3 linked regions of the Homo sapiens genome follow. The protein of the gene in region 1 purifies or fractionates together with the protein of each later gene. This does not show direct contact. Each region holds a gene or a part of one and is shown on either strand. Other genes may lie near its edges.

The links.
Region 2: the proteins of ADNP (region 1) and ZNF644 purify together in Homo sapiens (affinity purification with mass spectrometry; 3 studies listed by BioGRID and IntAct, with this or other methods). This does not show direct contact.
Region 3: the proteins of ADNP (region 1) and ZMYM4 purify together in Homo sapiens (affinity purification with mass spectrometry; 2 studies listed by BioGRID and IntAct, with this or other methods). This does not show direct contact.

What each region holds. Positions count from the first base shown.
Region 1 is NC_000020.11:50,929,477-50,933,229, forward strand, and holds the start of ADNP (activity-dependent neuroprotector homeobox protein), read right to left. Parts: upstream 1,962-3,753; 5' UTR 1,350-1,961; intron 862-1,349; exon of another isoform or gene 1-861.
Region 2 is NC_000001.11:90,917,326-90,921,078, forward strand, and holds part of ZNF644 (zinc finger protein 644), read right to left. Parts: intron 830-3,753; coding exon 727-829; intron 1-726.
Region 3 is NC_000001.11:35,355,696-35,359,448, reverse strand, and holds part of ZMYM4 (zinc finger MYM-type protein 4), read right to left. Parts: intron 628-3,753; exon of another isoform or gene 525-627; coding exon 3-524; intron 1-2. UniProt on the Homo sapiens protein: Plays a role in the regulation of cell morphology and cytoskeletal organization.

The sequences.
Region 1 (3,753 bases):
CATTTTCCCATGGTCTGTAGAAGGCGCTGTGAAGCACATCCTGTTCTAGCTCGGGGGCCCTTCCCCCCTCTGCAGCCTTACCCAGTGCAGAGAATGCGCCCCCTACTGACTCCAACACTCATCGCCTTTAGCCGACTTGGCTGCGGTGCATTTTGGGTGGGGGCTGGTATTTTCTCCATGGCCATAAACCAGAAGCAACAATGCAGATTTCTAAAGAAACTGTATCAAGCTATCCAAGAGATTTTTTTTTTTTTCATTCTGAAGGTTCAAGATACAGGCACAAGAAGCATCAGGGATGGGAACTGGGTGTGTGGGGATGGACATCATTAACATGACAAACACAGAAACAGTTTGGTTCTTTTTCCCTCCTAAGCCTTTGTCTGTGAAATGGGGTTATGGCAAGAAGTGTCCAGAGTAACTGGTAAATTCAAGAAGATTAAGAAGACTTCGTGTGTGGGGGGTGTGTGTGTGTGGCTAAAAAGGATATCAGACCTAGAGTCTTGGTCTTGGGCAGAAGAGGAAGAGAAGCAATCGCGCCTTTTCCAGCAGACAGGGATCAAGGTTGGGGGGGAGGGGAAGGCAGGCAGGCCTCCCAGAGGAAAGAAGAGGTGAATACGAGTGTGTTCACAAAACTACTCCCCATTCATTACATTAAAAAAAAATCTTTTTGCAGCTCTCTGGATTTCCATTTTCTACCACCTTACTGCAAAGTTGGGGCTCAGAATGTTCGAAAGAGGTGCTGACCAGGCAGCTGAGATTGGGGAAAAGGGATGGTGGTGAACTGTGGTCAGGATAAGAGGAAAGCTGGCAGGTTGGGGAAGAAGGATTGCACAGGGGAGGCAAAGACTCACTCCATGCCATGCATGCTCCCCGCCCCCCCCAACCCCGTCCCCCCTCCCCCAGGTAAGGGTGGGCAGACCTGGCAGAAGGCTGGTTCAAGGCATGGGGGTGTGCGTGGGGGGGCTCCTTTTGGGGGTGGGGGGCGGACGGGATTAGTTCCAGGATGGGAGAAGCTCGGTTCTGGCTGGGGGAGATGCCCTTAGCTGCAAAAGCTCCGGGCGGCCAGGCAGAGTGCTGGCCTCGGTGGGCTCACAGGGCGGAGAAGGGGGTCGGGCTGCAGGAGGAGGCGCCTGGACCTCCGGAGCAGAGTCGGGTAGCGGTCCGTGCCGGGACGGGGGACCCGTCGGCGCCGGGGTGTGCAAAGGAGCGTGTGTGCGGCTGGAGGGCGGCGATGCGAACAACAATGCGCCCGCGCCCGGGGCCAGGCTGCACTGGCGGCCGCGCGGGCCGGGGTCGGGAAGCCAGGCAGGGCAGGGCCGCGGGTCCGCGCGCGGCGGCGCCGGGCTTACCTTGACTCGGCCTCGAGGCGCGCGCGGGGCCGGCGTGCTCGGGGGCCGGACAGCGGCGGCGGCGGCGGGCGGATGGCGGCGGCACGGCGGTGGCGGCAGCGGGGAGGGCGCGCCCGGGGCCTCGTCGCGCTCCGGCTCGGCGGACTCCGGCTCGCGCCGCGGCCGCGGGTGCTGCCGGGGGGCGCGGCGGGCGCAGCAGAGCGGCGGGCGGCGGCGGCGTCGTCGAGCGGTGCAGACAAAGGAGGGGCGGAGGGAGGAGACGGAGGGTGTGGGAGAGGCGGCTTCACCGGCGCGGGCGGCGGCGGCCGCGCTCCTCTCGCTCCTCAGCAGCGGGGACCGAGAGAGGGAGCTGTGTCTGAGAAGACGCCAAAATCCCCCTTAGCGCTGCCTGCGGGAGGGGGAGGGGGCACAAGATGGCGGCGGCCGGGGGGGGGGGGGCGGGAGTTCAGCTCATGGATCCCGGCGGGCGGCGGAGGGGAGACCGGGCCGGCGGAGGCGGCGGCGGCAACGGGCGGGGGAGGGGGCTGATCCCGCGTCTCCCCTCAGCAGACAATACAAGCGCCTCGGACCGAGTCCCCGAACCTGCCCTAGCCAAAATGGCGGCCGAGAAAGAGCGGAAGTGACGTAAGTGCCTCATTAGCATAAGAGGACTCATTGTCCAGCTAAATAGGGGGGGGCAGTGGGGACAGCACCCCTAACCCCCTTTTCCCCAGGGGGGGTTCCTCTTACTCCCACCCCTGCTTGCACCTAACTTTTCCTGAGGGAGGGTGCTCTCAGCACCCCCACCCCCGCTTGAGGGAAATTATATAATCCCCACTGAGGGGGGAGCTCTCGCGAGAACCAGGCGGATTTGCCATTGACCCACTAGGAGGCGCCGCGGATAATGGCCGCAGTGCGCTCCCGGGGCCCGTGTGCTCGGCGGGCGCCTTCCTCTGGCCGCAGCGCCGGCGGCGGAGGCAGAAGCAGCGGGCCGCAGCACGCCCAGCACTCAGTCAGGTGGCCGTGCTGGGGATCCCTGCGCGGGCCCAGCTGGGCCTGGACTACATCTGGCGGGAGGGGTGTGCGGGGCGGCCTGGGGCGGCTCCACGTGCTCAGATGCCCGCGCTTCCACGGCTGAGAAGCGGCGGGAAGGCGCCGGGACACCTGGCCGGTCGCCCCTGACGCCTCCTGCCTTAAATGAGGTGTGAGGGCCTCGTGCTTCACACAGCGACTTGAGATGAGACACAACCCCATGGATGCCTTAGCCCTTCCTGGTGGGGTATTCGGTGCAGAGGGGCCGAGATTTTATTAAGGTCCGCCGTTACCCTGTGACTTGACATTCTTCCCAGTCACAGTGATGGACTCTTCTCTGACCTGAATAAAAAAAAAAATGGGAATCCTAGTGCCTTGAGGCCACCCAACTGGTGAAACTTAAGGATGAGAAGTGATGTTGCCAATAGGGGCATTGGCTCTCTGCAAGATCCTTAAACAACACACTTTGTAGTCCTAGGGACATAGCTTTTGGTGCTCCCACAATCTGGGTAGCATAAGACAGCACATGGTTGCTTTGTAAATTTAGGTCAATCCCAACCAATACATTATCTCCTCAACATTTTTGAACCAACCTTTTAAAGTAGGTTGTTCAAAGTAACATTATGATTTAAAGTATCATTGGTTGGTTAAATGTATTGACAAGTAATAGATGTCAATAGTGAGGAATTAACCAAGCCTGTTTCCTTAATATGTGATCTTTAGGTAAATACACCTGTCTTTTGCTGTTTCTTTACATTTCAAGTTAACATAGTTTCAAGCCATACTTAACATCCGAAAATAATCTGAGTTCGCTGCAAGTAGTATAAATTGTGGTTACACATAGCTGTTCAACATCTAAGACTTCAGTTAGCCCTGTTTAACAAACTTTTATACAACACATTTCTGCAATTGTGATAAAATGTATCTTTAAAAGCCAAGTCAGTATTTCAAGGGAAAACAGCTGAAAAAAGTCGTGGAAAAAGGGGTTGGGGCAAAGCATTTGATTCAGAAAACTAAAGAATCTAATTACACACTGCAGAAGACAGATAAAAACTAATATGAAATAAGCAAAGTAAGTTTAAGTTTAGTTTTTCTTAGATATACTTAGATTCCATATAGTGATAATACAAATACAAGGGAAAACATCTGGATTTCATCTTTGGCCTCATTTACAAAGCAAAATGGGATGCTGGATTCAGATGTAAATATTTAATTTTACAGTGTTTAAGCACCAGATTTACTACAAAAATGCATCTAAATATTCCAGATTCTTTTCTAAATGACTTCCAAATGCTATGAGTCTTCACTGCTCAAATACTCTATGGTAAATTCCAAGAGTGACAGTGTTGTGATAATGATTGTGTGAATAACTAAAAAGATTTAAAAGGCAAAC
Region 2 (3,753 bases), on another chromosome or scaffold:
GGCATTGTGTCTATGTTTCTTCATGTGTGTTGTGTGTGAGTGTGAGTACGGAAGAAGGCGTGACTATGAGGGGAGAGAAAATGTGTTCCCAATAAGCGAGAACTCAAGACAACAAAACATCAAACCAAACAAAATTAAACCATACAAACCAAATAAACACAAGGAAAGCCAGTTTTTTTTTCTTTTTTCTGAGACAGAGTCTTGCTCTGTCGCTCAGGCTGGAGTGCAGTGGCACGATCTCGGCCCACTGCAACCTCTGCCTCCTGGGCTCAAGCAATTCTCCTGCCTCAGCCTCCCAAGTAGCTGGGATTACAGGCACCCGCTACAAAGCCTGGCTAATTTTGGTATTTTTAGTAGACACGAGGTTTCATCATGTTGGCCAGGCTGCTCTTGAACTCCTGGCCTCAAGTGATCCACCCATCTTGGCCACCCAAAGTGCTGGAATTACAGGCATGAGCCACCACACCTGGCCAAGCTACTTTAATAAATCACAGTATAATAGATTTACATTACTATTGGCTAATGTAAAAAACTTGATTCATTAGTTGTTGAAGTACGGATATTGTGAGCTGAATTAAGATTTTAAGCCTATCTCCAAAAGTTCATTTATAACTTGATTGTTGAGAATGCACTCTGCCACAAATTAAAAATCCCAAATGAAATAGCTAATATGTTTCAAAGCAAAGTATGAAGAAACTGATCAGATTTGGCAATATAGGCATATACCTGCATCGGAGAATGTAAACCTCGTCAGCACCATGAGGTAATGTTAGCATTTTCTTCTTGCTTCCAGATCTTGACCTTGATTTCTTTTGCTTACAATCTAAGGCTAAAAAGGGGAAGAGAAAGACTTAACATTCCTTATATATTTCAAAATATACATACACACATATTTTTCTAGAGAGGTCAGACAGACCATCTAAATCAGTTAGAAAAAGTCCGCATTCATTTCCCTATTCCCTGAAGCATGCATTCAACTTGCTGATTCTGTAATAGCAGTAATATTATCTGTACTGTACAGCGGTATTATCTGTACTGAAGAATACTATCTGTATTCTTCCTATACTGCCTTTTCAAATAATGCTTTACCACACCAAACTAGAACTGAGAAAATGTAACTAAATAACTTGAAAGTACTAAATTGGTCAATTATTACAATAATGGTAATCTTTACTTTTATAATCATACATAATTTTAATATCTGGTTTAATCTTATTTCCAGAAAAGTAGAACCTTTTATTTGAGATCATTAAATTAAGTTTGCATTTGATTACTGCTCCATTAAGTAGGTCTTCTATACTTGGAAAACTTCGTAAGGGAATATGGATAATGTAATTAAAAGCTCAAGGAAAAATCAATTTTCATAGTGATTCACCATGAATTTTATAATAAATAGCTCTTAAAATTGTATGCTGGCCCTACATTTGAAAGGACAAAAAAAGCTCAACTTTCATTTTTGAACTTAATTTGTATTGCATATACAATAATCAATTATGCAATCATATAAGTTTTATTTTACTAGAAAATAAATATAAATCCATATTATCTCACGTAAGTTTACAATTGGATCTGATGTTTAATGCTAACTATTCTTTACATATTTTTCATTTTACATTTTCTCCAACTGCTTATTTTAAAATGTGATTTGAAAAGGTAAAAAAAAAAATTAAAATAGACCAAAATTTTATGTGAACTGTTCTTGAAATTTTTCCATTAATTGACTTTTCCTTTATTTATTCTAAAACAACCTGATTTTAAAAAGAAAAAAAGGTATTTTTTATAGGTAGCAATAGATAGCACATAACATTTTATAGGTCTTTGAATACAGCTACACCATTTCTTTGGACAAAGGGATGATAGCAATCCAGGGTGCTGCTGGTCAATTAGCAGGAAGAGAAGGTAAGAATTTATCTGTAGGGATCCAAGGGGGGAGGGATACAAATGTAACAGAAGAGTTACCCAAATGGCTTTTCTTCCATTATCCTGCCATGTGAAAAATTCCCTGGAAAAATTCTAAGTAAGAGAGAAGGAACTGGCTGTTCAATGACTCTGTGAAACGAATTGTTCAAAGTCCAGATTCCAAAAGAATAGATGCTACTATTACAAAACCAGTAAACATAGTTCCTTAGTCAAATGGCAATGATAACAGAAATGTCATATAGAAAATTCAAAACCACAAGAAACCTAAATCTCATTGAAGCCACTGGTTTCAGCTTCCTGTCACCTGCCTATTCAAAAGTAAAATCTAGGACACAGTCTTTTTCTGTTTATCCTTAGAAGAAGAGTCTAATAAGTAAAGAACTACTAGAAGTCAAGTTAGGTATTAAAGAATGGGTAATTCAAAGCTAAACAACCAAACTCTGGAATAGAAAAATCTTATAAGGATCTTATTAGTTATCTCAGTCAAGAGCCTCGCATGTAGTAGGAACTCAACAAATACTTCTGGAGTAAAAATAAAGCAAAACTCAGTAATTTAACCATTGATATTTAGACAGCCTATGAATGAAAATGTTTTACTCCTATTTAATACAGGTAATATTCCTGTACAACATTGTGCATCATTTGTTTAAATATGTTGCTGCAGTCACACATACTTCATTATCCTAGATATAAATCACTGACCAGCCAGCTTATGTACAGAAACTAGGTTATTCACAACAACTACAAGAGTGAAATACCTTATGCTTTGTACCCAGTAGGAAAAACCTTTTTCCTAATCGCTTTGGTGAGCAATCTGAATTTAAGTGGGTTATGAGTGATTCATACACTAGAAATAGAGTTCAGGGAACTCAAAGAGTAAGTGCTACTAGATGTCAGCTATTCTTTCCATCTGTAAAGATGGATCCTTGTCTGTGTTAGGCAGAATAGAGCAGGCATTTGGTGTATCATAAGATTACAGGTAGAATCTTACTTTGATGAGCTTGCTGGTTGTCAAAATTGCCACACTGTATTCAAACTCCTTTTAAAATGCAAATAAATTACTGTAGGATACAAATAGAATACATTATAACAACCCTTAAAAATTTGTTCACAGAATGTTAATGTTAGGGGTGTAAAGCAAATTGAGGAAGAAGGGCAGGAGGATGGTAGGGAAATATGCAAAAGAACATTTTATCAGTTACAAAAGCATTTAAATTTACATGTTGTTAATATTTTAAAAATGGAACTGGAAATGTTTATTCTAAAATACAGAAATATTTTTGGCTTTTTCTTTAATAGGGAAAAAAGAATTATTTTATGGCTTTTGATGCTTTATGGACTGTGGAAACTCTTAAGTTTAGGCTGTTTTATGAATGATCAGATCTAAACTTGAAATGAGAATGCCATCATTTTTGTAGCAATGAGTATTTGAAGGTATTATAACCTTGGAAAGCAGGACAACTCTGCCAGCTTATGACTGATCAATCATCTCTAGAACCCAGGGCTCCAAAGTTAAGGTTACAGAATCTCATGCACTGAGAATCCCTAGAAACTTATTCACAAAGTTAAAATATTAAAAATCTGGGAACTTTGGAAATTGAAATCTAAATGCCTCAGTGTTTTAATATCTTCATCAATTCTAGATTTATTATCTCCTGAAATGTTATATTTTTGAGCAGGTGAAACATGAACATATTTTACAATAGTTTTTCTAATGCCAATATCCAAACCCACTCCTGTGATACTGCCCATACCTTTGGGAAAATCTGTTTAAAATTGAGTATTTAACATATTAAAACTGCACAAAAAGGGGACATCTATATAGGATCCTCT
Region 3 (3,753 bases), on another chromosome or scaffold:
ACCTGCTTTATCAAAAAAACTGCTTTTCAACCTTGAATCCAAATCTTTATGGGGTTTATCCAACCGTTTTTCACGTTCATAAGTTAGGTCTCTATTTTTCTCCTTTCCAGAAAATGTCTCTTTGCTGTTTTCTCTTACTAGACTAAAATCTTTCCGTATTGATTTAAAGACAGAAACCTGATCAAATTGTTTAGGAAAGTCTTTTTTTAACTTATTTTGAATTTGTATTTCATTTTCATTGTCTGATTCATGCTGTGTGACTCTTCTCTCTACTTCCAAGCTATCATCAGTATGAATTGAAGAAACAAGATTGTCCTTTGAACTAAAATCCTGTTCATCCTCATTGTCACTACCAACGACTGGAATTCCTGCAAGATCCCCAGAGTTCAAAAAATAATCATCTTCATCCAGCAATGAATTTTCAGATCCTGTTTGATTCGGCATTCCATAAGACATGCTGTCAAGGGTAGGAGTTAAGTTGTGGTCTATATCTTCAGACATTTCTGTATCCATGATACCACCACCTTAAAAAGTAAAATACTGTTTAGACAAATGATAGTGCTAAAGATGACCACAATGATAAGGTCAGTCTGGTATTTAACCAAATAAATATTTTTTCAAACAAAATACAGATATTACCATAGTATTCATTTAACACTTTGATATAGGTGTGACAGATATAACTATTCCTATCTGACAGTTAAGGAAACAAGGAGCCAAAACTTGAGAAACTACTTTAGGTTAGAAAAGAAAGCTACGTGATATAGAGAAAAGAGCACCAACTTCAGAATCAGACATATCTGTGTTGAAATCAAAGCATGATCCTGAAAATCTATGTAATCCTAAAAAGTAAACTCTCAGAGTCTATCTATACAACAGCATAATACTCACCTTGGAGATAAATTTGTGGTGAGGATTAGTGATAGTATGTACAAAAGACCTACTAACACAATGACTGACAAATAGAAGGGAATATAAAATGGTAATTATAATTATTATGGCGATTATTCAGGGAAAACTGAGATTAGCACTCAGGTCTTTGGTCTGAGTCCCATTTTCTCTGCACTAACACTAATAAACACTGACGGCAGTTAATACTTACACATAAAAATAAATTTTATCCAACCTAGAATAAAAGACTATTTACTGTTTAAAACTACTAATATATACTAATCTCTCCCATTCCAAAACAAAACAAAGCAATGCCCTCATTCATGCCCTAACCCTACAATGCCCTCATTCATCTTCCCTTCACAAACTTGTAGGAAAAAAATTCTACCTAGTTTGCTTCTACTTCATCTCTATCATTAACCCTTTGAGCTTAATACAATCAGCTCCCAACTTTCCACTGGAACTTTTCTCATTAACATCATCAATGATCTCCTAATGGTCAAAGCAAATTGACTTTTTTCAATTCCTAAATGGCATATCCCTCATGGATAAAATTCCTTTGGATTCTTTGGTACTCTTATTTCTTACTTTCCTTAATTGCCTTATAATTTATTTTATACTCTTCTTCTGTTCACATGGCTTCAATGTTAGCTTTTCTGCAAGATTCCTGTTCTCTTTACTTTTACACTCAGACTGAGCTATTTTGTTCACCTCCATAACACTTACCTTTGCTACTGACTTCCTAAGCACTTAAGCTTAGACCTTTCTTATAAGATTTCGGATGTCTATATTCAACTAGCTCCTACACGTTCTCCAACTTAGCATCTCTAAAATCAAAACTCATCATGTTCCCTCCCATTCCAAGCATATGCTTCTTATATTTCCCTCAGATGGTTAACAGATTCACCAAACCAGCAGTTGCTCAAGATTTCCCCCTGGACAAATTCTGTCAACTTTATTACTTATCTCTCTCAAATCCATCTTTTCCACTTAGCACCTAGTTCTAATACTCCACGTCTCCTCCTGGATTCTACAATACCTTCAAAGGTATACTAATTCAGTCCACATGGATACTCAGGAAGCAACCATACCCTTATAAACTCTATGCCTAAACCACATTTAATTGATACATCAGCAAACAAACTGGAACTGATAAAAATAGAGTGAGGCGAAGACTAAAAATATTAGTGGCACTGGCATCCTTGCTCTTATTTGTTCCTGAAGCCCAGTTACATCCTTCATGTGGCTGGTTCTTCAACCCTTCTCTGGATTATGGAATCCAATAAATTCCTTTTGTTAAGTTGATTTGAGTTGGATTATCTGTAATCAGGTCCCAACTGATACAGAACCCAAAGGAAAGCTTTCCTGGACCAGGCACAGTGGCTCACACCTATAATCTTAGCACTTTGGGAGGCTGAGGCCAGAGGATTGTTTGAGGCCAGGAGTTCAAGACCAGCCTGGGCAACATAGCAAAAGCCCATCTCTACAAAAAAAAATTTTGTTTTAATCAGCCAGGTGTAGTGGTACACACATGCAGTCCTAGCTACTCAGGAGGCTGAGGAAGGAGGATCACTTGAACCCAAGAGTTTGAGGCTGCAGCAAGCTATAATTGTGCCACTGCACTCCAGCCTGGGTGATGTGACAGGGCAACCCCCTGTTTCTTTCTTTTTTTTTTCTGAGCTTTGCTCAAGTTGCTCTCTTCCATAATGACATCAGAATTACCTTTCCAAAATATAAATCATTTCACATTACATCCTCCCTTGAGATTCTTCAATAGCTCCCCACTGCTTGAAGTATTCATTCATTCAGTACATATTTATTAGGAAACCACTCTGTGGTAGGTATTGCACTAGGTTCTAGGGATAAAATGATGAAAGAGATAGCTATGACTCTTCCTCCTCACAGAGCTAGAAAAAATAAACAGAAAATTAGAAACAGTATGAGGGTAAATAATGATTTGAGTCCATAATGTCAAAGGGAAGGAGATAAAAGCTTGTTTCTATCATAAGAACGTTTGCTAATAAACGTAGAGGCAATAATATAATTGGAAAAATTGTCTATACTTTCTAAAATAATCAATTGAGACAACAGATAGTAAAACAGATGCTAAAATCTTAGGAGATGTATGCTGAAGAACTTACAGGTGAGCCATCTCAACGTTTCATCATTAGTAGCTGACCACATAGCATGTGCTCTGTAATTTTTCATAAATGAAAAATTAGGTGTTTTATGTAGTCAGAACAATGAGTTCTATAGTGCATGAGAAGTCAATACTAAGAAGTAATATTGTAAGCAACTTTCCATATCACTACATTTACTTATTTATTTAGTTAGTTGGTTCATTTTTTGAGACAGGATCTGGCTCTGTCACCCAGGCTGGCGTGCAGTGGCATGATCTCAGCTTATTACAACCTCCGCCTCCAGGACTCAAGCAATCCTCCTACCTCAGCCTCTCAAGTGGCTGAGATAACAGGCGCATGCCGCCACATCTGGCTAATCTTTGTATTTTTTGTAGAGACCCAGTTTGGTCTTGAACTCCTGAGCTCAAGCAATCCGCCCACCTCAGCCTGCCAAACTGCTGGGATTACAGACATGAGCCACTGCACCCAGCCCCTTATCATTACATTTAAATTCAGGATATAGTATTTGAAGAAAAGGGTAGTCATATGGAAAAATGAGATCCCTAACTCACATCAAAAAATTTTACAGATGTATCTAAGTTTTAGGCATAAAGAAATAAAACAGTAATATTAAATAAACTACGGAAGAATTATTTTAGTAATATTAAAGAAACTATGGAAGAATTATTTTTGAGTCGCAGAGACAAGCCTTTCTAATAATGACCAAAAAAATCCAGAATAA